Linked DNA regions of Homo sapiens: region 1 is linked to region 2. A link means that fine-mapping ties the variant in region 2 to the expression of a gene that starts in the linked region. Tissue or cell type: transverse colon. Region 2 holds a variant in brackets; the other region holds the start of a gene. All regions are shown on one strand. Distances are between the middles of the regions.

Region 1 (16,135 bases), 31 kb before region 2:
ATTCTCGTACAGCTCCGTAGGTCCGCTGTGTGACATGGGTTCTCACTGAGCTACCATCAAGGTATCCCAGAGCTGTGTTCCCTTTTGGAGGCTCTAATGAAGAATCTGTTTCCTTACCTTTTCTAGCTTCTGGAGGTCCTGTTCATTCCTTAGCTCTTGACTCCATCCTCAATCTTCAAGGCCAGCAATAGTGCATCTCCCTCTGAGCCTTCACTGTCACATCTCCCTCTCACCAGTTGGAAAAGGTTTTCCATTTTTCAGGAGCTGATGATTAGATTGGGTCCACCTGGATAATGAAAGATAATCTCCCATCTCAAAATCGTTAACCCTAATCATATCTGTAATGTCCCTTTTGCCACGTAAAATAACATGTTTTATAGGTTCAGAGTATTAAGGTGTGGACAGAATTGAGGGCCATAACTGCTCACCATGAATGTGAAACAGTACCATTCTTCCCACTAAATTTGTTTGCAAAATAGATTTTTCATTAGAATGTCATATCTTAACACATAATGGGTTTGTCATTCTAAAGTGAGTGAATATTTTTAAAAAATTTCTCAGTTTTGCTTTCTAACATGGTATCTTGGTCCACTTAATGTTGCTGTAACAGAATACCTGAGGCTGGGTAATTTATAAAGAAAAGAGGTTTTTTTGGCTTATGATTCTGGAGCTGGAAGTTCAAGAAGCACGGCGCCCACATCTGCCTGGCCTCTGGTGAGGGCTTCCCGCTGCATCATAACATGGTGGAGAAGCAGAAGGAGAAGCAGGCATGTACAAAAAAGGGACCAAAAACAAGGAGCAGCTTTGCGTTATAACAACCCACTATCATGGTAACTAGTTCAGTTCTGCAAGAACTAGCCGGGTCTCACAAGAAGTCCATCTTAACGAGCTAATCACCTCTGATACGCCCCACCTCCCAACACCGCTACACTGGCAATTCAAGGTGAGTTTTCACAGGGACAAACCACATCCAAACCACAGCATATGGTTAAGTATTGGTAAACATAAACCACATAAACAAAAGCTTTTGGAGTTCTGAATTAGTTTTAACAGAGTATAGAGGTTATGAAGCCAAGAAGGTTGAGGATTGCTGGCTTAAATTTTTGAAATGGTAAGAGCAGACCCATCCTAAGAGTGTCTCAAAATCACATAAACATCCTCCATGGAAAGATGAAATCATCCCATAATACAGAGAAAATGCTGGAAAAATGTGGTGGTAAGTGTCATTAGGTGAGTTGACCAGAATCTTTCAGATGATTGGTGCCAACTCCCAGACACACTGGCAAAAGCTCTAGCAAAGAAAGAGCTGCTTTAAGGTGTCCTTTAAGCATCCCTTCTGTCCCCAGTGTCACACATGACTGGCAAACCCTAGGGATGTGTCCCTAGTGCCTATGCTATGGCTGGGTTTCATGCATGTCGGACTGACCTTGCCCTGGAACCCTACTGGTGAGACTATTGTTGACATGGAATGTGGTTCTGCATGGCTCAAAAGAAACTACTTCAGGCTCACTCCATGGCAATCTTATGTCAGATATTGCTAGCACTTATCTACTCTTCTTTTTTTAGAGACAGAGGTCTCACTATGTTGCCCAGGCTGGACTCAAACTCCTAAGCTCAAGTGATCCTCCCACCTCAGACTCCTAAGTAGCTGGAACTTACAGGCATGAGTCACCACACTTGGCTTCATCTACTCTTCTATTTTTTTTTTCATGTGAAGCAAGGCTTCCAAATTTGTGAACAATAATATAGTCTATCATTTCAATGTCAAACAAAACCAAACAAAGCTCCTACCTCAAATGAGAAGAGAAGTAGGAGAAGGAAGACAACTAAAATTTGTAGAGTGCCTGCCATAATCCTGTCATTTTGACTGGTTTCTCTTTAATTCTCTCTATAAACCTCTGAGAGATATCATCCTATCCTCTCACAGGTGGGAAAACTGAGGCCCAGCAAGGTTAAGAAATCACCCTGGGTCAGGCAACAAATAAGTAGAAGAGACAGATTTCAGACCTGGGTCCATCTGGTTCTAACATTCACACGGGTTCCGTTCCCCCACGCTGTCTGCTAAGCAGTGTTGGGACCCTAGAGTGTGTTAAAAGAAAACACCATGCTCTGAACACCAAAACCCGAAGAGAGGCCATCCCTCCTGAACTGAGGCCAGGCCCAGGAAGAAGTTTACTCATCCCTCACAAATCAGCATGTGAAAAGCAGCTGACGACCTCAAAGGAAAACCACAAAGGGAATGAATTCATCAAAGATCCCTCAGCCACAGCCCCAGTGCATGCACTGCCATGGGACCTTCAAAGTGAAGGAGAGGGCCAGCCACTGCATTGGGCCAGAGGGACTTGAGTTCCACATCTGGTTCTGCTACTCATTATCCAAGCACAATTGGGAAACAATTTTGTCTTTGTAAACCTCCATTTTCCCATGTGTAAAAAAGCAATAATGCCCTCCTCTCCCTGAGTTCCTCCAAGAATTAAAATAAGGAATCCAAGACAGAGACAAGACACTCATGGGTAGTGAGAGAGACAAGTGAAGAAGACCCTCCTGATAACTCCCAGTAAACGCTGTGCAAAGAAATGGAAGCAGAGAGAGCTGCATGGCATTGAGCATAGCTAGTGGGGCATACAGCGTAGGAGGAATGTGGCTGGAAAGGCCGTGTGTGCAAGCAAGCTTTGATTTAACTGTATGTGAGGGAATCACAAAATTACAATGGCTTAAACAAGATAAAAGTGGTTTTCCCTCCATGAAACCAAGTAAGGAATTAGGCAATGCCAAGCTAGTGGCTCCACAATTGAGGACACAGCTCCTTCCATTTTGTGGCTTCACCGTCCTCATGGTCTTCATGGCCCAGCATGGCTACCTGAGCTCTGGCTATCATCTCCATATTCTCGAAAGGAAGCAGAATGACAAAAAAGACATGCCTCTTCTCCTTCCATCCGATTACCTGGAACTTAGTTACAGGGCTTCACCTAAAATAGTCTGAGGGATTTCTGAGTGCAGTGGCTTATGGGCAGTTGTCCATGTACCTAGGATTCAGGGAGAGGACTAAACATTCCTCATGTAGCTTGCTGGTGCCAGGGTGAGCAATATGGACTTTGTTCTCAAGTAATTGTGATTGTGCATTTTGACATGCCTGGCAGTTCCCTGGGGGACTGGTGCAGAGGCTTGTCTTTTCTTCAACCCCTCAGGCTGGTGCACCTCCCCAGGTGGCATCTTGTTTGTTTTTGAGACAGAGATTCACTCTCGTCACCCAGGTTGGAGTGCAATGGCACGATCTCAGCTCACTGCAACGGCACGATCTCAGCTCACTGCAACCTCCGCCTCCTGAGTTCAGGCAATTCTCCAGCCTCAGCCTCCCAAGTTGCTGGGATTACAGGCGCCCACCACCATGCCTGCCTAATTTTTGTATTTTTAATACAGACGGGGTTTTACCATGTTGGGCAGGTGGGTCTCAAACTCCTGAGCTCAGGTGATCCACCCACCTTGGCCTCCCAAAGTGCTGGGATTACAGATGTGAGCCACCGTGCCCAGCCTGTTGAAAACATTTAAAGACATAAACTCCCCATAGCTGTCTGGAGCAAGGGACAGCAGATGGGTCATGCAGCACATAGACCAAAAATCCTGGGAAGGAGGACGCTGAGGAGGAAGATGCTTGGGGAAAGAAGGTCGTTGAAGGGCTACTGCATATACCAGGGAACCCAGGCTGCAATGCACATGTCCAGGGCTGGACACATGCTCAGAAAAGATCTAAGAGGACCCTAGGCTTGCACCTGTGGCTGATCTTTGTATTCCATGCAAGCAGGAGGTAAAGTCTAGGGAAAATGGAAAGAGTGGCTTGGCTAAGTGTCTAAGGAATGCCTCAGCTCAGAGCCAATCTGCCAAGATCAGAAGATTTTTCTTTTGTGTTTGGTCCAGGTGTTTTTAGTCCAGGTATTTAAGGAAATCTGTGTCAACTGTGGCTGACCACTGAGGTAACAGATCAAAGACTTCAGTGTCTACATATAAAGAATGCAGTCTGCAAAAATCATATGGAAATGTCACTAAACAAAGAAGACTGCAGCCCTTAATAAGCAATAACAGCAAATCTTGCAAAGGGCAAAGAATCTGATTTCCAGAGTTATCACATTATAATATTCAAAATGACCAGTTTTTTTCTTTCAATCAGCTTCCTCAGGTTGAAATGTCGTTTTTAACAGCAGCAAAAAAAATTAGAAGGCATACCAAGAAAAAAAGAAAAGTATAACCCATTCACAGGAAAAAGAAACTGACAGAAGCCATCCGTGAGGAAGCCTAGACATTGAACTTGCCAGGCAAAGAGGGCTGGACTGTTCAGCCCTACCCCTTGACCTCCTGGGTCAATGATTTTATGGCCAATGATGTTGATCAATCAATGGTGCCTACGCAATAAAACTTCCATAAACACCCCCAAATGGCTACGTCTGGGGAGCTTCTGCTAACTTCAGGTACATATTATCAGAATTGAATTGAATTGTAGGACACACACTTGGTGTCTGGAGAATTGTTTTTGTGTGGAATAAAAAAACCACACACTTGGTGTCAGAAGTGTTGTGAGAAAAAATAGTTCAGAGAAGTATTCCCTCCTCTTCTATTTCTTAGTAGAGTTTGAGAATTGGTGTTAATTTTTCTTTAAAGGTTTGGCAGAAAATTCACCAAGCTGAAGCCATCTGGTCCTGCTTTAGGGGAGGTTTTTGATTACTGATTCAACCTTTTTTTTTTTTGTTTGTTTTTGAGATGGAGTCTCGCTCTGTCACCCAGACTGGAATGCAGTGGCTCAATCTCGGCTCACTGCAAGCTCCGCCTCCCGGGTTCATGCCATTCTCCCGACTCAGCCTCCTGAGTAGCTGGGACTACAGGCGCCTGCCACCACACCCGGCTTTTTTTTTTTTTTTTTTAGTAGAGATGGGGTTTCACCGTGTTAGCCAGGATGGTCTCAATCTCCTGACCTCGTGATCTGCTGGTCTCAATCTCCTGACCTCGTGATCTGCCCGTCTCAGCCTCCCAAAGTGCTGGGATTACAGGCTTGAGCCATCGTGCCTGGCCTTACTGATTCAACCTCTTATTGGATTCAATCTCTTTACTTTTCCTAGCTTGTTCAGATTTATTTCTTCCTGAGTCAGTTTTGGTCATTTGTGTACAGTTGTTCACAGTATTCACTTAAAATGCTTTTTTTTTTTTTTCCTGTAAGGTCCATAGTGATGCCCCTACTTTCATGTCTGATTTTAGTTATTTGCATCTTTACTCTTTATTTCTCAGTCTAGCTAAAGATTTGTCAGTGTTGTTCATCTTTTCAAAATTTTCATTTCAGCTATTGTACTTTTCAGCTCCAGAATTTTGATTTGGTTTATTTTTCATAATTTGTCTCTTTGCTGATATTCTGTTTATACATTTATTGTTTACCTGGCTTCCTTTAGTTCTTTGTCCATGGTTTCCTTTAGTTAGTTAAGCATATTTAAGACCATTTAAATAAACGTTTAAGTAAACTTTTAAACATTTAAATAAAAGTCTTTGTCTAGCAAGTTCAATGTCTAGGCCTCCCCAGGGATGGTTTCTATCAATTTCTTTTTCCTGTGAATGGGTTGTACTTTTCTTTTTTCTTGGTATGCTTCCTATTTTATTTATTTATTTACTTTTTGGTTAAAAACTGGGCACTTCGGGCCTGGCATGGTGGCTCACGCCTGTAATCCCAGCACTTTGGGATGCCGAGGTGGGTGGGTCACAAGGTCAGGCATTCGAGACCATCCTGGCCAACATAATGAAACCCTGTCTCTACTAAAAATACAAAAAATTAGCTGGGTGTGGTGGTGGGTGCCTGTAATCCCAGCAACTCGGAAGGCTGAGGCAGGAGAATCGCTTGAACCTGGGAGGTGGAGGTTGCAGGCTGCTGAGATCGCGCCACTGCACTCCAGCCCTGGTGACAGTGGGAGTCTCTGTCTCAAAAAAAAAAAAAAAAACAAAAACTGGGCACTTCAACCTGAAAAAGCTGATTGAAAGAAAAAAAAACCTGGGCATTTTGAATATTATAATGTGGTAACTCTGGAAATCAGATCCTGTTAATGCTTATTAAGGGCTGCAGTCTTCTGTTTGTTTAGATCATGCCTTAGTCTTTCTGGCCACCAGCCCCTATCCTGAAGCTAGTCAGGGGTCCCCAGCCACCAGTCATTTCATTAGCATACCAACAACATTCATCACACCTGAGATTCCAAAGGTTTTAGAAGCTTGTGCCAGGAACGGGGATAAAGACCAAATATTTATTTTTATTATATCACAACTTCCTAACTCATTTATTGAGTCATTATGCTTCACCTTAGGGCATATGCAGCCTCTTCACATTAGGGGAAATTCAGCCTATCAAGTGCAACACTGAAAGCTAAATAACAACAACACAACAACAACCAATCAGGGATGGGCGCGGTGGCTCATGCCTGTAATCTAATCCCAGCACTTCAGGAGACCGAAGCGGGAGGGTCACTTCAGGTCAGGAATTCGAGACCACCCTGGTCAACATGGCAAAAACCCCCTCTCTACTAAAATTACAAAAATTAGCTGGGCAGGGTGGCACATACCTGTAATTCCAGCTAACTTGGGAGGCTGAGGCAAGAGAATCACTTGAACTTGGGAGGCAGAGGTTGCAGTGATCTGAGATCGTGCCACTGCACTCCAGCCTGGGCGAAAAAGCAAGACCCTGTTTCAAAACAACAACAACAACAAACCAGGTTGGGGAGTTATTTCCCAGGAATTCTGTAGCAAGGGCTCATATGCATCAGTTAGAGTTGGACTTTGTGACCTTCAGGTGTCCTTCCTTTTCCAAGAATCGATTATTTTTATAATTCTGTTAAATGTAATTAATTTCTCAAATTTATCAAAGATCATTATTTGGACCATTATTTTCTTAGCCAAAATGCTGGCCTGCCCCAGTTCCATCCAGGGTTAATCTGCATTTAAACAGCTCTTTGAAAATATTTGGTTTTCCCCATCCATCTATGGCCAATTGATTTTTGACAAGAAGCCAAGACAATTCAATAGGAAAAGGACAATCTCTTCAACGAATGGTGCTGGGACAACTAGAAGTCCACATGCAAAACAATGAACTTGGACCCTAACCTCACACTACATACAAAAATTATCTTAAAATGGATCAACAACCTAAATATAGGAGCTAAAACTATAAAACTCTTAGAAGAAAACACAGGAGTAAATCTTCACAACCTTGGATTTGACAATGATATCTCACACAGGACACCAAATGCACAAACAACAAAAGAAAAAACAGTTAAGCTGAAGTTCATCAAAATTAAAGTTTTATGTGCATGAAAGGACATCAGAAAGTGAAAAAGACAATTACAGAATGGGAGAGAAATATTTGCAAAGCATATATCTGATAAGGGTCTAGTGTCCAGAATATATAAAGAACTCTTACAACCCAACAACAAAAAGACAACCCAATTTTAAAATGGGCAAAGGACTTGAATAGGCATGTCTCCAAAGAAGATATACAGATGGCCAACAAACACATGAAAAGGAGAATGCTTAATAGCATTAGTTATTAGGAAAATGTAAACCAAAACCAGAATGAGGTACCGCTGCACACCTACTAGGATAACAATAAAATGGAAAATAACAAGTGTTGGTGAGGATGTGGAGAAATTGGGATCCTGTACATTGCTGGTAGGAATATAAAATGGTTCAGCCATCGTGGAAACCACTTGGGGTTCCCCAAATAGTTAAACACTGAAGGCTGGGCACGGTGGCTCATGCCTATAATCCAGCACTGTGGGAGGCCAAGGCAGGCAGATAACTTGAGTTCAGGATCAAGACCAGCCTGGCCAACATGGGGAAACCCCATCTCTACTAAAAATACAAAAATTAGCCAGATGTGGTGGCACACACCTGTAACTCCAGCTACTCAGGAGGCCGAGGCAAGATAATTGCTCGAACCTGGGAGGCAGAGGTTGCAGTGAGCCAAGATTGCGGCCACTGCACTCTAGGCTGGGCAACAGAGCAAGGCTCTGTCTCAAAAAAAAAAAAAAATTGAATTACCATGCGATCCAACAATTCAACCCCTATGTATGTACCCTCCCCAAATAAAAATGGGCTCTCAAACAAATACATGTACATGCATGTTCATGGTAGCATTATTCACAAAGCCAAAAGATGCAAACAGCCCCAATGTCCATAGATGAATAAACTGTGGCATACATGATACACACACACACACGCACACACATATACATATACACACACAAACACTATTCAGTCATAAAAAGGAATAAAGTCTGTTACATGCTACCTGAGGATGAACCTCGAAAACATGCTAAGTGAAAGACACAAAAGTCCACACACTGTGATTCCGTTTATATGAAGTATCTAAAGTAAGTAAATATAGAGACAGAAGTAGACTGGTAATTGCCAGGGGCTGGGGGGGAAGAGGGCATTGGGAAGAAACTTCTCAATGGGTATGGGGTTTTTCTTTCGGAATGAGGAAAATGTTTTGGAACTAGACAGAGGTGGTGGTTGCACAGCATTGTGAATTCACTAAATGCCACTGAAATGCCCACTTTAAAATGGTAAATTTTATGTTATGTGAATTTCACCTTAAGTTAAAAAAAAAAAAGTAAAACTACTCAGACAACGCCAAATTATTGACAATCTCAACCTACCCCACAGACCCCAAATCCTGGAACCACAACCCCCTAGGCCAATTCTCAGGTCAGGCAGCAATTTATTCCTGTTCAATTTTATGCAGAGCTCCTGGTGGCTCTGAAGCGCCCTAGGGAACAGACCAGGAACATTCTCATGGTGTTAGCTCACATTGGGCCATTAGTGCTCCTTTAATGTGAGAACAACCGGGAGGAGGAGGGGATGTGGACCCAAAACTACAAGAAAGAGTGTCCTCGAAGCCTATGTCCTACCGCCCCACGCTGCTGCCAGGCCCGCAGGAAGATGACAGGCCCGGCCTCCACTCCTTCTAAGGTCGTCGCTTAGTTCCGACGTCGGGATGACCCTGTCATCCACGCGGCGTGAAGGCCACCCTCCCCGCGCGCCCGGGACTCCAGGTGGGGCCCCAGTGGACGAGGGAACGCGGCGTCGCCCACCGGGCGTGGCCTGGGCGGGCGTGGGGCGGGGCCTGGGCCGGCGCCGGGTCCGGCCGGGCGCTCAGCCAGCTGCGTAAACTCCGCTGGAGCGCGGCGGCAGAGCAGGTGAGCGGGCGGTGCCGGGGGGTGCCCAGGCCAGGGCCCTGTCGCCTGCGGCGCTGAGGGCCCGGGGTGGGGCTGCGCCCTGAGGGCCCTGCCCTGCCCTCCGCACGCCTCTGGCCACGGTCCCTTCCCCGGCTGTGGGTCTGCGGCCCCTGCGTGCGCAGCGCTCCTGGCCTCTGCGGCCAGCGCGGGGGCGGAGAGAGGAGAGTGCCCGGCAGGCGGCGGCTGGGCCGGCCCGGAACTGGGTCGTGGAAGGATCGCGGGGAGCGGCCCTCAGGCCTTCGGCCTCACTGCGTCCCCACTTCCCTGCGCCCGCCTGCCGCCGAGCCCCGGCTGGGGGTGGGCGCGGCGCGAGCGGTTAAAGGGCCGGTGCATTTAAAGGAGCGGTGCACGTGGGTCTCTGAGGCGTGTAGCAGGCGGGGGCGTTTTGTTCTTCTTCTCTCTCGCCGGAGACCTCCGTTGCGCCGAGTCCATTCGGCCTCTAGCACCGGGTCCTGGGCATGCTTTCCCCGGGAAGGAGGCGCGCGGGGGCTCTGCCCGCACGTGAGGGGCAGGGCCGCAGGCTCAAGCCTAGAGCCGGTTTCTGTTAGCAGCGGTGTTTGGCTGTTTTATCAGGCATTTCCAGCAGTGAGGAGACAGCCAGAAGCAAGCTTTTGGAGCTGAAGGAACCTGAGACAGAAGCTAGTCCCCCCTCTGAATTTTACTGATGAAGAAACTGAGGCCACAGAGCTAAAGTGACTTTTCCCAAGGTCGCCCAGGTACGATATAGCAGAGCCAGGCTTCGACCCCAGTGTCCTGGCTTCTAGATCTGCTGTCCATCCCTCCGAGCAGACCTCACCCCTGTTTATTGCCTTAATAAGTATTCCCTTTGAAAGGTATGAACGGTGTTGAGTGAAGTAACTGCATCCCTATTTACAAATGGAGAACCTGAGAGCATTCCATAGAGACGATTGTAGACTAACTTAACTCAGAAGCGACAGCCTGGGGTTGCCAAGGCTGTCTACGAAGTAACTTGATTAGGACCGACCCCAGCTTCCAGTAAGGAAGCCTCTGATGCCTCTGTAGCCAATTCTGCAGACACCTGAGCCTCCAAGGCCTTCAGCCAAGACCTTTGGCGGTAATTGGAGTCTCGGGATAAGCTGCTTCAGGTGTGTGAGCCTCAGGTTCTTCTCTCCTGAATGTGGTTGTGGGCAGCCGGTGACTGGCGCAGGTGCAGAAGGGGCCTGGTTCTTGGCCCCACCTCAGAGCTGCGTCCTCACGACGCCCACGTTGAGCCTTGGGTTCCAGGGCAGAGACTGGAGTGAGGGCTTGGGGGCATGTTGCTTTGAAGTGGGATGGATGTATCAGGTTTTTGGGGAAAACTCTGTACCCTTTGGTGTTGAAGTGCCCATGTGCCAAGTCTTGAGTCCAGCATGTTCACATGTGGGGAGTGAGTGGCTTGTTCCTGTCTATTTGAAAGAGCAGCAAGGAGGAGGAGGAGCAAGGGCTAGGGGCTGCTGCTGGGGTGCCTGGAGCTGTGGTGCATAATGTCACACCTGTCTCCCCTCCGTAGCTGCTCACCGTCCCCCCAAGGGGGGTTTGCCTCTTGCCTACTTTGGCCTTTCTCTGTTATCGATGTTAATAATGACATATATCTCGCTTATGAGTTGGTCATAATAAAAAGCTATCTTGTACAGAATATTAGAATTTAAGATCTTAAGAATTTCAATGACACTGAAATAGTTTATTATTACCTTTTTACAGAAGAGGAAACAAGTTCAGGGAGTTAAGCAGCTAGTCCAGTTATGTGGCTTCAGTGCTTTAAGCACCAGGATTTGAACATAGCTGGCTACACTGTCTTTATCTCTTGAGTTTTTGCGCAGGAGGTTCCTGTATTCAACTCCTACCCGTGTCTCTCCACTACTGCTGGGAAAGTTTTGTGGAGTCCCCATGAGCAACTTCCTGACAAACAAACAAAATTTTTTTAAAGAAACCAAAGCAGTGTGTGTAGGTCACATGCAGTGTGTCTAATGAAAACATCTCTGGCGGGTTTTCAGCTGTTGCTTTGACTTTCGGACACTGTTTAGTTGGGGACTGATAAGACAGCAAATATTTCTGCAAGTATTCCCACCTGTTCTATTCCCAGCTGCCACAGCTGCGGAAAGGCGGGGGTGAGGCTGAGAGGCCCCGAGAGGAACATTTTCCACTGGGCTCCAATCCTGGAGATGGGATGACCATCATGTTAATGTCTGGAGAAAAGAATGATTTCAGGCTGGGTGCTGTGGCTCATGTCTGTAATCCCAGCACTTTGGGAGGCCGAGGTGGGTGGATCACCTGAGGTCGGAAGTTTGAGACCAGCCTGACCAACATGGAGAAACCCCATCTTTACTAAAAATACAAAATTAGCCGGGCGTGGTGGCACATGCCTGTAATCCCAGCTACTCAGGAGGCTGAGGCAGGAGAATCGCTTGAACCCAGGAGGCGGAGGTTGCAGTGAGCCGAGATCGGGCCATGGCACTCCAGCCTGGGCAACAAGAGCAAAACTCCATCTCAAAAAAAAAAAAATGGTTTCACATCAGTCCTCAGGAAAGATCAGATGTCAGTGAGGGAGATCATTTCTTGAGAGCCTCTTCACTGAGTGGGAGAATGGGCTGCTTGTTCATCTTTGTGAAAATTCTAGAACGGGAAGAACAATTCAAAGGGTGTCCACCATTCTGCTGTACCTTAACCAGAAACTTACTGGACTCTTTTTAAAATAAAAGTAATTCATGTTTATTCTAGAAAATTAGGGAAAAAAAATTTTTTTTGAGATGGAGTTTCACTCTTGTTGCCCAGGCTGGAGTGCGATGGTATGATCTCAGCTAACTGCAACCTCTGCTTGCCGGGTTCTAGCGACTCTCCTGCCTCAGCCTCCTGGGTAGCTGGGATTACAGGTGCCTGCCACCACTCCCAGCTAATTTTTGTATTTTTATTAGAGGCGGGGTTTCACCATGTTGGCCAGGCTGGTCTCAAACTCCTGACCTCAGGTGATCCGCCAACCTTGGCCTCCCAAAATGCTGGTATTACAAGCATAAGCCATTGCGCTGGGCTGAGATAACCACTCTTAACATGCATTTCCTTCCACACTGTTCACATATGCATATTTATCTATTAAAACAATAGAGGGAGGGAACCGTAGGTGAAGTTTGTGTATCCTGTTTTTTCTGTTATGCCTTCAGAATTTTCCTTTTATTGAGTACTCATGGAAAAGCAGATTTGATGGCTGTGTAGAGCATTTGAATTATTTATCCTACCAGTCCCACAGCAGGACACTTTCCCACCCTCCCTTTTGCCCCAGAGAAGCAGTGCCCTCTGTCCTCCCCATGCCCATATGTGGGCACTCCCCACCATGGAGCCAAACCTACCTGGGCAAGTAGCAGAGGGAGAGCAGAGTGAGCCCTGGGGGCAGGAGAGAGACTTGAGAGTTTTGAGGTGACAGATGAGCTGGTGAGTGAGTGATTAGGGAGCATTTCTTGACACATACCTGCCCGTGGTGAAGGCATGTGTCTTGTGAGTGTGCTCCCAGAAAGCCTGTGTAGTGTGTGGTGGGCCTGCCTGTGTGACCAAACCCTGGCCACTGGGTACGTGACCCTCACAAGTGCTGACTGGGCTGAGAAGAGCTCCTTGATGGGCAGTTTGGAGACTTGAGTTGTAACTGTGGCTTTTGGCCATGGGACATTAACTGATTACTTTTGCCCCTCTAGGCTTCAGTTGTCCTTAATTATAATACAGGGAGCTGACTAGGTGGCGTTGATGGCCTTTACGGTCCTTGCCAGCTCTGACATTGTCCTATGGATATGTCCTTTCATTTGATAATATGTTTACGTGGCCATAGTGCCTGGGGCTGGGCCGGGAATGGAAACTTGATCTCTGGGGCCTGGCCTTTGAAGCCAGTTCATGTGTCTGGTGGTTCAGCAGATCCGTAACTTTCCAAGAGGCACATCCATAGGCTACCGTGTCCTTTCTCACTGTGTCCCTCCTCCATTTCATCTTCTTTATAACTACGACTTATTGAACATCTACTGTGTGCTGGACACTTTACAGGTTATCTCTAGGTTTTACGATAATCTTGCAAGGTATGCCTGTTCTGCTTTTTACAGCAGAGGAAATGAGCTGTGTCAGATTAGACTGTCTGAGGCCTCTTGGCCAGGGAGTATGTGGTTCAAATCACATAGGCAGGCGATCTGAACCCTGTCAGTCTCCAAAGCCTCTGCTTTTGACCGCTGACTTGCTGCTGCTTGTTTAAAAATAAATGTGTTTCTGGAGCCTACTCCAGAGGGGCGTGCTAGGGGCTCCCTCTCCCACTTCCCCACAAACCACCCTTTTCCCTGGCTGCTTCAGGAAATGAGAGAACTCTGCCTGGGCCCCAGGCACTTCTGAGTGGGACAGGGCTGTTAGAGGTAAGTCTAGAGCCTGGCCCAAAATTCAGGAGGCCCCATCAGAGGGCCCCTGGGGCCTGTGGTCCGGGAGGGTGGTAGGGCAGTACCTCACTTCCCTTTGAGACTCAGGCCCCAGCTCTGGCTTAGGCCAGGGAGAACCATCCCCAAGTGGTATGTGTTACTATATGAGCTGAGATGGATGGTCAGCTGGACCAAATACATAGTCGGGTACCCAGGGCCAGGGGGAGGAAGGTGAGCAGGGAAGCTGTGGGCAATTGTCTGGGTATCACCTGACCTTAGCAAACTCTTCCTTGTTTTAAGCGAGGACGTGGGACTTCTCAGACGTCAGGAGAGTGATGTGAGGGAGCTGTGTGACCATAGAAAGTGACGTGTTAAAAACCAGCGCTGCCCTCTTTGAAAGCCAGGGAGCATCATTCATTTAGCCTGCTGAGAAGAAGAAACCAAGTGTCCGGGATTCAGACCTCTCTGCGGCCCCAAGTGTTCGTGGTAAGTGCAGTGACTCCCAACCTGCTTTTGAACCCTCTTTTTCCATTAGGATTTTCTCCGTGGAGGCAGATTTCCATGGGAGTTTGCTGTGGCATTTTGAAATCTGTTTCTTACCTAGTTCCATTGGCCTTAAATGTTAAGGCCAAAGCCTTTACATTTCTCTGTAATGAAAAGAAGGTCGAGGAAATTGGGTCATTGGGTTTCCATAATGATTGCAGGAACTGCTGACACAAGCACGGCTGGGGAGATTCTCTAGGTCAGACTCCCTTGGTTTGGCTAATTCAGCAGTTTGATCCCATTCAGCTGATTAATGGGAATGTGCAGTGGCTTCTTTGGATGTTTGATTTTGCATCCTAATCCAAAGCAGCTATCAGCCTCAGCACTTCCTTGTTGGAAGGCTTTCCAGAACGTAGTCTATGTTGGACACTTCCTTCTGCCTCTCTGCATTTTCCTGCCACTTCTCTAGAGAATGGGGTGCAGGGGGTGGGAGACGGGGAAAGCTGGTCGCTGAGTGGCTGATGGGACTTGACATCACCCAGCCCCACCCCCACCTGCCCGTGAGTCAGCCTCCGGGGAGAGTTCATCGCGTCACCGGCACTCTAATGTGGACAGACACCTAGCAGTGTTGTTTATCTGCACACGTTTGGGTGGTGATTTTTCCCTCCAAGGATTTCAGAGCACCAGCAGGCTTCAGAGCAGACTTAGGTGGCTTGCAAAGCAGGCCCTCAGGAATTCAGAGGGTAGCAGAAGTCCATCCCAGATGCTCTGTTTTCCTTCAGGAGCTAGGTAAATCAGAGGGGCTGAGGGACAAATGAAAAAAGTTACAGCCTTTGAGTCCCATCTGCTCCTCCTGGCCAATGAGAGGGGATCTGGGAGGGGCAGATGTAGAGGAAAATCTGTCTAAATGTTGATGCTCGTTATTTTCCTTTAAAGAATTAATAGCCTAAAATAAACCCTACAGATACAGTCTGTGTTTATTATGGCGACTTAGAGAAATGCAGAAAAATATCAAGAAAATAAAAACCACTCTTGGTTCTACCATGCAAAGATAATCATCTTTAATGTTTTGTAATATTTCCGATCTTTTATATACATACATTTTATAAGGACATTCAGATGATCAGGTTCGTAAAGTTTTATGTTCGGTTAAATTTAACAGCGTGTCATTGTTCAGGTTATTAAATGTTTGAAATAAGATTTTTGGTGGTCCTGTCACAGTCTCCATGAAGTAGCATTTCAGGATCGAAAGGTATGCTGTGTTTAAAGTGTTGATTCTTACTCCTTTCAGTTAAGGCCAGTGCAGTTTGTCCAGGTAGTGACTGAGACCCAGTTTTTCCACACTCTCCTCCGCAGTGGGCATTGTTTTGGGCCTTTTTCAGCCCAAGAGCTCTCTTCTCCCCATGCCGCTCTGCTGGTCTGAGATTTTTCCACTCCTCCTCCTCCCTAGTTGCTCTCTGACCAGACTCTAGGTATTCAGGAGAAAGTGTTCATTGTCTCACTCTCTCATGTGGCAATCAAGTAGTGCCAAGCAGTGAGAGGGTGAAGGTGGGTGGGTGAGGGACACTCACCTTGCTGAGAAAGGGCCCCAGCCTGTTCGGGTGATTATAAAGCAGAGACAGTGCCAGGAAAAGTCTGACACTGGCTGAGAATCACCCGGGGACCAACCATCCCGAATGCGGATCCCTGACACTGGGTGAGGATGGAGCTTGGAGATCTGCATTGTTAATAAGCAGCCTAGCAGAGTGGTGAAGAGTCCAGACACACTACCTAGGTCCAAGGGTAACCTTGAGCTAATTACTTTTTGAGCCTCTGTTTCCTCATCAGTACCATGGGGAAGAATAGTAGCACCTTGCTCCAGGATGTTTAGTGCCGGCTAAGGGCTCAGCAGGTGCTGGTCCATCTCCACCAGCCCCCAGTGGCCTGGGCCACCTTTGAGAAACAGTGATCCTAAGGGATTCAGCATTTCCTAAGTTGGTGCCTCCCACCTGTCACCCCCACCCCACCAGGCTAGGAGGG
Region 2 (12,725 bases):
AGCTTTGCGCAGTGATGATACCCTCGAGGTGGTTGTGATGACATCAGATTTGCAGAAAAGAAAATTGCTTAAGGGCCTTGCCCATGGGCGCAAAGCTAGTGAGGACCATGTTTTCCCCCTCCTCCATGCCATTGGGACACCACAGGGTCTGAATCTGGGGCACTAGGGGTGGCCCCGTTACTGTGAACCACAGCAGTGAAATGTGGAGGCCCTGTAGTCAGTTAACGTGACCAGATACACATAATGGGGAGACGTCCTGCCGTGACTTCATCTCAGAGATTTCGCTGTCACGTTAGAGGAGGAGGAGCGTCTGAGCCGTGCGCTTGGCATCTGCCCCTTAGTGAAAACCCTGGGCATGGCATGATTAAGGTTGATGCTCCAGTGTCCAGAAGGTTTTCTTTTTGCCCACAAGTATATCAGGGATGGGATGGTGGACCCAGGCTCCTCCACCACCAGACTGCCTTACCTGAGCCCTGCTGGCCCCAAAGATATAGAAGGCACCCTGGTTCCCTGTGCTCACCTGGACCACTGCCTGCATCAGCTGGGTCAGGGGAGGATGGGCAGCCCCCACACCTGCTTCCCAGGGGCAGGTTGCCTGGCGGCTCTGATTCCCTTGGTGCCAGCTGCTGAGAACCTTACTGCCATTTCAGTTGAGCCCACCTAGCTCTCATATAAATACATGTTCCCTGAGGGCATCTTACCATCCCATGTGACCACTCCAGCCAGACAGGGGAGGCAGCACGGCCTCGGGGCACAGCACTGCTCCAGGAGTCAGGAGGCCTGCCTTCTGGTTCACTCACTAACAGGTGAGGTGATCTAATGGGGGTGAGAACTTCTGCCCTTAACACCTCAAGAGCTGTTGCAGGACCAGGGAAGATAATGGGGTGTCTAGCGCCGTTATCCGACTGGTCCTCGAACAAGCTCCTGTGCCCAGGGACTAGACCATGACTCACAGCTCCTGTCCACACCAGGGATCACCACGCTCACCCTCCCCTCCATGTCCTGCAGGGCTTGTGTCTGACCCTCCTGCTGCTTGCTGTGTTCAAGAAGGCGCTGCCCGCCCTCCCCATCTCCATCACGTTCGGGCTCATCTTTTACTTCTCCACGGACAACCTGGTGCGGCCGTTCATGGACACCCTGGCCTCCCATCAGCTCTACATCTGAGGGACATGGTGTGCCACAGGCTGCAAGCTGCAGGGAATTTTCATTGGATGCAGTTGTATAGTTTTACACTCTAGTGCCATATATTTTTAAGACTTTTCTTTCCTTAAAAAATAAAGTACGTGTTTACTTGGTGAGGAGGAGGCAGAACCAGCTCTTTGGTGCCAGCTGTTTCATCACCAGACTTTGGCTCCCGCTTTGGGGAGCGCCTCGCTTCACGGACAGGAAGCACAGCAGGTTTATCCAGATGAACTGAGAAGGTCAGATTAGGGCGGGGAGAAGAGCATCCGGCATGAGGGCTGAGATGCGCAAAGAGTGTGCTCGGGAGTGGCCCCTGGCACCTGGGTGCTCTGGCTGGAGAGGAAAAGCCAGTTCCCTACGAGGAGTGTTCCCAATGCTTTGTCCATGATGTCCTTGTTATTTTATTGCCTTTAGAAACTGAGTCCTGTTCTTGTTACGGCAGTCACACTGCTGGGAAGTGGCTTAATAGTAATATCAATAAATAGATGAGTCCTGTTAGAATCTTGGAGTTTGGTCCGTTGTAAATGTTGACCCCTCTCCCTGCATCTTGGGCACCCCTGGGATAACTTGTGCTGTGAGCCCAGGATGGAGGCAGTTTGCCCTGTTTGAAGGAACTTTTAATGATCTCGCCTCTCTGCACACATTTCTTTAACTAGAAAGTTTCCTAAGCAAAGGAGTTAGGAGAGCAGGGTGGCCTGACATCTGCCAGCCCTGAGCTGTAAGGCTGTGGATGCTGAGCAGGTCCCTGGACTCAGTTGTGCACGGTGGCACAGACACTGCCAGGTGGTTGCCAAAACATCCAGTGGTTCCTTCAGCAAGTGTTCACCCTCTGCAGAAGCCTGTGAGGGCCTGAGCTCAGAAACCACTCTCCTTTCCTTCTCTGGCTTTGGCCCTGGGCACTGTGGTGGGAGAGTGGACAGTTTGGCTTTGCCTTCTCTGTACATCAATCATGGGTTGCAAAGAGAATCTCAGAAGTGCCTCTTCCTGAGCACAGTGGCTCACACCTGTAATCCCAATACTTCGGGAGGTCGAGTCGGAAGGATCACTTGAGCCCAGGAGTTTGAGACCAGCCGGGGCAACATAGTGAGACTTTGTACAAAAAAAAATTTAAAAATTAGCCAAGCATGGTGGCATGCATCTGTAGTCTCAGCTACTCTGGAGGCTGAGGTGGGAGGATCACTTAAGCCCAGGAGGCTGAGGCTGCAATGAGCCGAGATCAAGCAGGTGTTAGGTATATCAGACAGCTGAGAAGACGCAAGTGTGCCCTGGGGTTCAAACTGGTACCCCTGTCTCCCTGTTCCAGGAATAACATGAGTGCCGGGACAATGCATCTTTATTATGAGAGGAATGAGAATTGTGTATCTTGACATTTGACAGGAGCTTGCTTTCCCCCAGGCTGTTTGAGGAAGGGCAGAGGAAAATGTGGTGCCCTAAGAAGGAAGGACAGAGGAGGCCGAACACTGGCGGGTGGAATCCCACTGATTAGTAGTGCAGGTCAGAGACCTGGGATGGGGGGCATTGCCGTCATGGAAGCCACAGCGGGGAGCGGGTAAAGCAGACAGGGATGGTCCCTGATGGTGACAACTCGCAAGAGGTTAAGGGGAAAGAAAAACTGAAAAGCTTATTCAATTTGGCAATTATGGCAGTGTTTATCTTCAGAAGAGCAGTTTTAGGGTGGGGTTTCCAAAGATGGGATTGGACATATATTTTGAATCATTAAGCTTGAGGTCTTTCAAAGGCCTGGCCAAGGGTTGCTGGGTGGAGACCACATTCAGAGGTAAAGGCAGAAATTGGGGGCCCTTAAGTAGACAGCGAGGGAGGAAGAAATGAAGGGGCCTGGTGATGGTTAGGGTGAAGTGTTAAGACTGAGAAAACAAGGACATGTGAGAAGACGAGGGAAGAGCATTGGAGAGAACAAAGACACTGGAGGAGATGCTACTTGGAGGTCCCCAGAGAGCAGGGAGACAAATGAACCCAGAACACAAATGGCAAAGAAGAAAAATGAGAGAATTTGTAAAAGACAGCATTCGAACATGCCGAACAAGAGCAGGGTACTGGTGTTCAAACACCTGTATCTCCCCCGTGTAACCCGTCAACTAATATCTTTCCATATTTGCTCCAGATTTGTCTTTAGAAATAAAACCCACGTTCTGAAGTCCTGTTTGTATGTGGCCCCAGTCCTGTTGCCTCCGCCTCCTGTCCTGAAGTCGATTTCTGCCCTTCTCATCTATGGTTAGTTTTGTTTTGTATGTTGGCATGTTTTCTTAACTTTACAGAAATGGTATCATACTGTACATATTTGATAATTTTTTAAAATATTGCATTCTGGAGGCATGTATAAATGTAGCTCCAGTTCATTTATTTTATTTATTTTTTGAGATGGAGTTTTGCTCTTGTCACCCAGGCTAGAGTGCAATGGCGTGATGTTGGCTCACTGCAACCTCTGCCTCCTGGGTTCAAGCAATTCTCCTGTCTCAATTTCCTGAGTAGCTGGGATTACAGTTGCCCGCCACCATGCCTGGCTA[A/G]TTTTGTATTTTAGTAGAGACGGGGTTTCACCACGTTAGCCAGGCTGGTCTCAAACTCCTGACTGCAGGTGATCCACGCACCTTGGCCTCCAAAAGTGCTGGGATTACAGGCGTGAGCCACCGTGCCCAGCCCAGTTATTTTAACTATTGTATAGTGTTCCATTGTATGAGTTCTACTGTTTATATGCTATTGATCGACCTGTAGGGGTTTTGCAGTGTTTCTGTATTACAGCTGTGCTGCAGTGAGCATCCCATCACATTGTGTGGATTTGAGGAAGTATTGGAATTCCCCCAATTGACTGGACATTCCCAATTACCCTCCAAGTATGTGTCTGTTTATCCTTCCATCCGCAATCTGAGAGTTCCCCAACTCTATAATACTTGGTGTCATCAGACTTTTCATCTTGTCTGATTGGATGGGTGTCATTTCCTTTAGGTTTTATAATTATCTTTTCATATGTGTATTGGCTGTACAAGGTTCCTTCTCTGTTCATTATTATTAATTTTTTTAGACAGAGTCTCGCGCTGTCGCCCAGGCTGGAGTGCAGCAGCGTGATCTTGGCTCACTGCAAGCTCCGCCTCCCGGGTTCATGCCATTCTCCTGCCTCAGCCTCCTGAGTAGCTGGGATTACAGGTGCCTGCCATCACGCCCGGCTAGTTTTTTTGTATTTTGAGTAGAGATGGGGTTTCACCGTGTTAGCCAGGAGGGTCTCGATCTCCTGACCTCGTGATCCACCCGCCTCGGCCTCCCAAAGTGCTGGGATTACAGGTGTGAGTCACTGCGCCCAGCCCAAGTTTCCTTCTCTGTTACTTGTTCATATCCTCTGCCCATTTTTCACTTGGATTTTTTGTCTTACGGATATTTAAGCCTCTTAAAATATATATTCTGGAGAGATGCTAATCTTTGATTAATTATATGCATTGCAAATGTCTGGTACATTGTGGCTTGCCTCTCTTCCCTGCCTTTAGGAGTGTTTTGCTGGACCCAAGTAATTTTTAAATGTTAATGTTATTAAATCTATCAGTTTTTTGCTTGTATGGCTTATGCCATTGAATCTTGTTTTAAGAGATCCTTCCCTACCCTCAAGGTTTTCTAAATTTTTATTTTCATAATAAGATTTTTAGTTCATCTGAAATGTATTTTTATGATTGTATTTAGTAGGGACCTAATTTTGTTTTTCTTTGTAACCAGGTGTCCCAGCACTGTTTACTGAACAGTCTCTCCTTTCTCGCTGGTCTGTAGAACTCTCCTGACATATACCAAGTTTCCATAAGTGGGTGGATGGGTTCCTGAGCTCTCTACTGTTAATAGAACTTGCTCTCTCGCAGGCCAATGCCTCACCAGGTGATTGAAGCAGAGAAACTTAGGTGGTGAAAGGAGAAGATGGGGCCTGTCCTGAGAGTTTCTGTTCCTGAGATGCTAGAGGCAGAGGGTATGTAAATCTGAAGTTACACTGGATCTCCTAAAACAGTATAAAGCTACAGAAGTATAATAGTGTGGAATGGTGGTGGGAGTCAGTAAGGGTTAGGTCACTGCAGTGGTTTAAACAAGATGGGCTAGAATCCTTTCACAGGCACAGGCAGCTTGGAGAGGGTGCAATAGTGCATGGTATCAGGGGTCAGATGCCTCTTTTTCCTTTGAGATCAGTAAGTGGCTTTCACCTCATGACCTAGGCTGGCTGCTGTGTGCTAGCCGTCAAGTCACACTCCATCCAGCATGAAAGGAGGTTAGAAAAGGGTGCATTTCCTCTTCTTAAAAACATGTCTCAAAGTTGCACACAGCACTTTTGCCTATATTCAATTGGCCATTAGTCCCACGGCCATACCTGTCTGAGACTGAGAGACTGGGAAATGTCTTTATTTCAAGTGGCCATATATCCACCTAAACAAGATAAGGGATACGTGGTTATGGCGTGTCTTTTGGTTTACCAATGCAGATAATGAAGTTACCAAAACAATGAGAAAATGGGGTCGTGAGGGATCATGTGAATCACAAGCTGATGTCTTCAAAGACGGTGGAAATGGGCCCCGGGAGGCAGCAGATGACAGCAGTGGGGATTAAGGTAGACCTCCATCCTGGGGTTAAAATGAGGGGAAGGTGATGGAGCTGGACCAGCAGTCAGAATGGTCAGTGGTTAGGAGACCCTCTGCCCCCCACCGCTGCCACCATTGGCTCTCTACAGAATGCCTGCGAGTGGCTTAGAGTGACCAAGGATGAGGTGCAGATCCATGTGCACCCCCCTGCCCCCTCTGTGGACAATTTTCATGCCTGACAGCACAGTCTATGTGGATTGCAAGCCGATGAAACTATGCAAAGTAGAAGCATGCCTGCAGTTTGTGATTCGGTGATGTGTTTTATGCTTATGTGAGTCGAATGGGGCGGCAGGGTCCTGTGGTCACCCGCTGAGAAGGAAGGGTCCTGTAACCACTGCCTTTCTTTCAGCTACTTGAGAAAGGTGTTGTGAGGGACCGTGGATTTTGGGACAGCTTTGAATGGTGGTAGGGAGGAAGGGTCCGGTCTGAGTGAATGGCCAGAAAGCTGTGGGGAAGCTTTTAGGACATTGGCCAAGAGCTCCCTGAAGGCAGCCAGGGAGATACTTGTCAGTACATGTGACTAATGGCCAACTGAATATAAGCAGAAGTGCTGTGTTGCTGTGTGCAACACTGGACACCTTAGGAAGGACCTCGAGACAGTGGTTGTGGACTCTGTAGAGAGTAACAGTGACAGTAGCAAACCCTTACCCAGTGCCAACCTTGTGCTAGGCTCGCACTAAATGAGTTTACCTTCAATTCTCGTAACAATAGGAGGTAACTACTATTCTAATTTCCATTTTATAGATGAGGAAACTAAGGCACAGAGATCACTGACTTGCCCAAAATCAAGCAGGGAGTAGTTAGTATATAAGCCCACGGTATGTGGTTTGTAGAATAGGTGCTCTTGACTAGCAGAAATAGGTCCTCCCTGCAGTGTGTAATTGATAACAAGCATGGGCTGCCATCTTCCTGTCGAGGCCACTCAAAACACCCAACAGGCTACGCACGGTGGCTCACACCTGTAATCCCAGCACTGTGGGAGGCCGAGGTGGGCGGGTCACCTGAGGTCAGGAGTTCGAGACCAGCCTGGCCGACATGGTGAAACTCCGTCTCTACTAACAGTACAAAAATTAGCTGGGCGTGGTGGCGGGCACCTGTAATCCCAGCTACTCAGGAGGCTGAGACAGAAGAATCACTTGAACCAGGGAGGCAGAGGTTGCAGTGAGACAAGATCACGCCATTGCACTCCAGCCTGTGTGACAAAAGCGAAACTGTCTCAAAAAAAAAAAAAAAAAAAGTATGATTTTATAATCCCAGCACCTTGGGAGGCTGAGTCGTGAGAATCACTTGAGCCCAGGAGTTTAAGACCAATCTAGGCAACATGGCAAGACCCCATCTCTGCCAAAAATAAAAAATAGTCTAATTTTAGCTATTCATGTGTGTGTGAAGTGGTGTCTCTTCGTGGCTTTGATCTGCATTTCCCTAATGCTGACTAATGACGTTGGGCACCTGTTCATGTGCTTACTGGTCAGATATCTTTCTTTTGTTACATTTTATTAAGTTTTAAAATTTAAAGTCAAAGATTTCCCTATGAGAATGACTTTTAAAATGACCAAAAAGGGGAAGATAACATTAATTCTTGAAGAGAAGGCCTCTGAGAAAAATACAGTTGTAGCAAGCTGCTACTTTGCAAATGACCCATGCATTTTAATTTTCCCCTAAGGAAGGCCAAGGAAGAGTCTTATCACCTCAGGGCAGGAGATGTAGGGACTTGGGTCATTTAATAAGAGTGGTAGGTTTGAAAACTCAAACCCAGAAGACTCCTTAGAGTTTCTCCCAGGAGGTAGGGAAGGGGCCGCATCCATGGAGAGAGGAGGATGTGACTTAGAGCAGTGGTCCCCAATCTTTAGGGACCAGGGACTGGTGTCATGGTAGACAGTTTTTCCACAGATAGGGGTTGGGGGGATGATTTGGAGCTGAAACTGCTCCACCTCAGGTCATCAGGCATTAGATTCTCATGTGGAGTGTGCCACTTAGATCCTTGGCGTGCACAGTTCACAATGGGGTTCGAGGTCCTATGAGAATCCGATGCCACTGATTTGACAGGAGGCGGAGCTCAGGTGGTAATGCTCATCTCCACCGCTTACCACCTGCTGTGCAGCCTGGTTCCTAATAGGCTATAGACTGGTACTGGTCCATGGCCTGGGGGTTGGGGACCCCTGATTTAGAGGAAGTAAGGGCATGGCTTACCGTGGGCCCTGGGGTGTTCTGGGAATGGGGAGGATGGAGAGAAGAGAGGAGGTAGGGAAGACCTCCCCTTGCTCCCCATTTGGGATTTGGGGAGAAAGTCAGGTCTCAGGCTCAACAGTACCTGATCCTGTACCATCTTCCAAAGGGAAGTCAGTGGGGTTGGAAGGTAGGCAGGGGTTATCTTCTCTGAGCCACGGCACAAGACAGAAGTTTCCCACCATTCCTGAGGGGGCAGGTGGTAGGTCCCCAAGCAGAGAGCCAGCAGTCCCTCTCTGAGGCCTGCAATGGAATGGGGTGGGGTGTCCACTGAGCCAAGGGTCTGTCAGTGAGAGCTGGGGAGGCTGGGCTGGCTTGCAAGCACCTGTTATAACCAAACCAGGAAATCAGGTTCCGAGTCTTGCCAGCAAGGGCCTACAGCTGCCAGCAGAGATGGACAGCCAGGAGACCCCAATTGGCCACCCAGAGCCACCCTCCTCTGCCTACCCCACCCTCCAGTACTCCAGAGCCTACTCGGAGGGGAACAGAAACCTGAGAGGCTGAACACACACACATGGAGAAACAAACGTAGTAAAATATTTGGGGAATCAGGAAGAATTATTTGTACTATTCCTGCAACCTTTCTATAGGCTTGAAATTATCAAAATAAATTTTTAAAAATTGTAATAACATTCTCATACTAAAACACTGAGTTTTTTTCTTTCATTTTTTGATTTTTTCTTTTTGACTCCAGCATGACTTACTCTAACAATGGGTGGTCTCGATTTTGAAATACTTTCTTCTCCAAGCCTTTCATGACACCCTGTCTCTGTTGGTTCTGAAAATGTTGGATTTTGTCTCAGCCCTTGCTTCTGGAAACAGCCAAGGTTAAGAAAACCCCCCATGCTTTGTGTTCTAGCAGACAGCTTCCTGCAAAGAGCCATCTTCCCAGAGCACTTAGGCCTCTTAGATGTCTCCCTTGTTTAATTATGACAAGAGCACACACACAGACCCTCCAAATTCCCATTCTTAGTCTTCTAAATGATTAGCTGAGCTGCTTTTCCCCACTGATTAATCGGAATAAAATGCTCATTAACCAAACTTCCCTCCTTTCCCCAGGTCCCTAAACTTTCCTGAGTCGGCAGACATCCCCTCTGGAGAAGAGGTTGGCCCCAGAGTCGAACATCCTCTGATCTACCTGATCCTGCTGCCCTTCCATTCCACTTCCCCACATCTGTTCTTTCTGGTCGTGTTTACTCCCCTATTAAAAAAACAAAACCAGAAAACGTGTTTGCCTAGATCTTGAGACTCTGGAAGATCTTAACAGTCAGAGGTTCCCCCTATTTGCAATGATCTCCTTTCCTGCCCCTTCCTATCCTTGCAATAATCCTTTTGAATAAAGTCTCTCCTTACTAAATCCAGTTCCTAAAAATTAATTTTTTTAGAGACAGTGTCTCGCTTTGTCACCCAGGCTGGAATGCAGTGGCATGATCATAGCTCACTGCAACCTCGAATTCCTGGGCTCAAGCAATCCTCCTGCCTCAACTGAGGCTACATGCATGCACCATCATGCCTTGCTAATTTTTTTTAATTTTTGTCGAGACAGGGTCTTGCTATATTGCCCAGGCTGGTCTGGAACTCCTGGCCTTAAGTGATTGTCCAGCCTCAACCTCCCAAAGCGCTGGGATTCAAGCATGAACCACCGCACCCAGCTCCAATTTTATTTTGTTTGGCAGTTTCCTCCTACTCTTCTTCCCTCCTCCTGCTCATTCCTTGGCCATTTTCCAGCTGCTGCTCTGCTTTTACCCTAGATGCACATTTTCAGGGCTCAGTTCTCATTCCTCTTCTCTGCTTGCTCCTCCTCTCTTCCCAGTGTGATCCTATCCATTCACGTGGCTTTCACAAGCGAGTTGCCTTCCCCAGTATCCCTCCTAGCAGATCCTGCTGTGCTCAGGGTGTCCTCCTGCATATTTAGCACTGCTCACCTCCCAGGGTCCTGGGCACTTAGGAGTGGCCATGTGACTCAGCTCTGCCAAAGTCTAGTGCTTGGGTCTTCCAGAAAAGCTATTGTTCTCCTGGTTTTAAAGGCGGGGAGGGGCGCCTCAGCCATAATCTGCCATTTTTTCCTTGCATGGGACACAGATGTGATGCTTTGAGATGTCACAGCTGCTTAGCGACCACCAGGATGAAAGCCGCAGGCAAAGCGTGTATGACAGAGAAGGAAACCACAAGTAGCTGCCCCAGCCACCCCTGGACTTCTTTTCTGTTTGTTTGTTTGTTTGTTTTGAAATGGAGTCTCACTCTGTCACCCAGGCTGGAGTGTAGTGGTGCCATCTTGGCTCACTGCAACCTCTGCCTCCTGGGTTCAAGCGATTATCCTGCCTCAGCCTCCCGAGTAGCTGGGACTACAGGCACAAGCCATCATGCCCTGCTAATTTTTGTATTTTTAGAGAGATGGGGTTTCACCATGTTGGCCAGGCTGGTCTGGAACTCCTGACCTCAAGTGATTCACCCACCTAGGTCTCCTAAAAGTGCTGGGATTACAGGCTTGAGCCACCGTGCCTGGCCTGGTCTTCTTTTATGTTATTAATAGAAACCCCTATCTGGTTAAACTATTATAGTTGGGTTTCTAGTACGTGCAGCCACATGCAAGCCTGACCTACCTTTCAGTCAGACATCTCTGCTCACTTGGTATCTCTTCCACTTAGGTGTCTCAAAACACTGTTCTTCTCTCCCACCAACACCCCAAATCTGCTCCTCCAGTGTTTAACACCCCCAAAAAGCTTGTCTAAGTAGTTTCTCCAGAATTCTTCTTAGAAAGGGAGCTACTGCTGGGCGCAGTGGCTCACGCCTGTAATCCCAGCACTTTGGGAGGCCAAGGTGGATGGATCACCTGAGGTCAGGAGTTCGAGACCAGCCTGGTCAACATGGTGAAACCCTGTCTCTACTAAAAATACAAAAATTAGCCGGGCATGGTGGCACATGCCTGTAATCCCAGCTACTAGGGAGGCTGAGGCAGGAGAATCGCTTGAACCCGGGAGGTGGAGGTTGCAGTGAGCTGAGATCACACCATTGCACTCCAGCCTGGGTGACAATAATGAAACTCCATCTCAAAAAAAAAAAAAGCTGTATTTATTTAAGAAAACATCTTGATGAGAAGCATCAAGTAAAAGGTGAAGCCCTAAGGGCATGTATCAGAAAATTAAATGAATAGATACACTGCTTTGTATTGGAACAAGATTTTGAGGCTAGGGGATGTAAGGAGAAGAAAGTGTTTCTTGTAGCTGGATATTGCAATAATTTCACATCTGTTTCCAGGTAAATAAGCTGGGAGCAGAATTCATCCCTTTTCTCTTGTAGCAATGCAGCCATTCGTTCCTCATTGCATTCCTCATTATCTTGGGATGCATCTTAAGCAATGGCAACAGAGTTCTCCAAAGCTTCATCCTTGGTGGGAATAGCGTCTCCATCCCTGAGTCACAGGTGGTGGTTTTCTCAGACACTGCATCATCACAAACCATGAACTTTCACCCCTGCATGGGACGGTGATCACTCACCCCCTCCCACAAAAGGACATGGTGCCATAGTCACTTACATATTCCTTCTGAGGGTATGTTCTGTGCATCCCCACTGCTGGTACCAAATCTGCCTGCCTTCATTGGATTAGAAGGAGCAGAAAGCCACTTAGACTGCCTTAGGGAAACACAAGATTATTACGCACCTGTTAAATATATTTTTCTATTTATAACTCTCGCTTTTTAAAAGGGTCCTGTTTGGTGGCTTTTCTTCTACTAAGCACAGGGTCTGGTTAAGCAAGGGGAGCTGAATGTCTCTGTATGATAATACTTGGGGAGGGATTTGGCCTCCACTTGATATAGAAGGAAAAGGAGCCAATAGGAGGCAGGTGGCCACATACTATGATGTAACCTCGCCCCCAAGAGCCCCCAGAACCTTTGATCAGGTCAGTCCAACTCTGAAATAGTGACTATTCACAGAGAACTCACAGAGTCAGGGATGTGGATTTGATTCTTACTCATCCATCTTGCTCACCATTCCCTGTGCCTTGAAATCTGAATATTTGAGTCTTTATTCAGATCTTGGAAATTTTCTCCCCTTATTTATTTTCTCTGTTTTCTCTTTTTGAGATTCCCTCAAGACTGGTGTCAGATCTCAGAACTTGTTTTTTAGTGTCTCTTCAGTGTTGTCTCCTACTCTCCATCCCTTTGTCTTTTCCCTGCTCTGTATGCTAGGATTTTTCTTCTAGCCTTTTTAGATTTTATTTTTTGACAATCTTGTTTGTTTTTTTTTTAATTTCCAAAAACTCATGATCTTTACTTGCTCCTCTCTCATAGCTGTTATTTTTGATGGAGGCAATATCTTCTCAGCTCTTACTGAGAAACGAGTAATTCTTGAAAGGTTTTCTATTTGATTAATTGTCTCAGTTTTCTTTAGCCTTTTTGTTTATCTGTTCATCTTAGGTCCTTTTATTTCTTATATAACTCTTTGAAAATGGCTGATGATCCTTGCTTGACTGTTCACATTTATGAATGAAGAACTAGACTAGGTGTCTGGAGTTACTTTCCTTGGCAGATGTCAGTCTGGTGGTGGGTTAAAGTATTATCCAGTAAATATTCATTCCCTTGCCTGCTGGCCTCATGAGGGAAGCCTGATCCCAGGCCATGTCCTCTCACCCCTCTTCGGTGTTCTCTGTGGTGCATGGGAACTGCCTGCACTCAGTTCCTGTTCAGCTCTGCTGCT

Which allele goes with the higher level. Positions count from the first base shown, and alleles are read on the strand shown. Sizes are in standard deviations (SD) of each study's normalised expression.
For the expression in transverse colon of the gene that starts at base 9,185 in region 1, allele G in region 2 goes with a lower level than allele A (small effect, 0.29 SD a copy in GTEx).

What was found. PIP is the estimated chance that this variant, and not a neighbour inherited with it, causes the effect.
Region 1: it holds the start of PSEN2, and the variant in region 2 is fine-mapped to the expression of PSEN2 in transverse colon (GTEx, PIP 0.99). The same link has a PIP of 0.9 or more in esophagus muscle, prefrontal cortex and tibial artery.

What each region holds. Positions count from the first base shown.
Region 1 is chr1:226,861,432-226,877,566 of GRCh38, forward strand. It overlaps PSEN2 (presenilin 2), which reads left to right and starts at 9,185. Exons shown (of 13, transcript NM_000447.3): 1 at 9,185-9,218; 2 at 9,831-9,973; 3 at 13,934-14,119. LOC105373119 (a long non-coding RNA gene) reads right to left here and starts at 9,119. Exons shown (of 3, transcript XR_949226.4): 1 at 8,931-9,119; 2 at 118-286. RefSeq lists an enhancer at 1,943-2,491 and silencers at 8,988-9,587, 9,598-9,647.
Region 2 is chr1:226,894,416-226,907,140 of GRCh38, forward strand. It overlaps PSEN2 (presenilin 2), which reads left to right. Exons shown (of 13, transcript NM_000447.3): 13 at 1,009-1,683. The coding sequence ends at 1,164. Among named protein-coding and RNA genes, the nearest start is that of PSEN2, 30 kb to the left of the region's middle. RefSeq lists a silencer at 1,479-1,710. The variant A/G (reference allele first, on the strand shown) is at 3,708.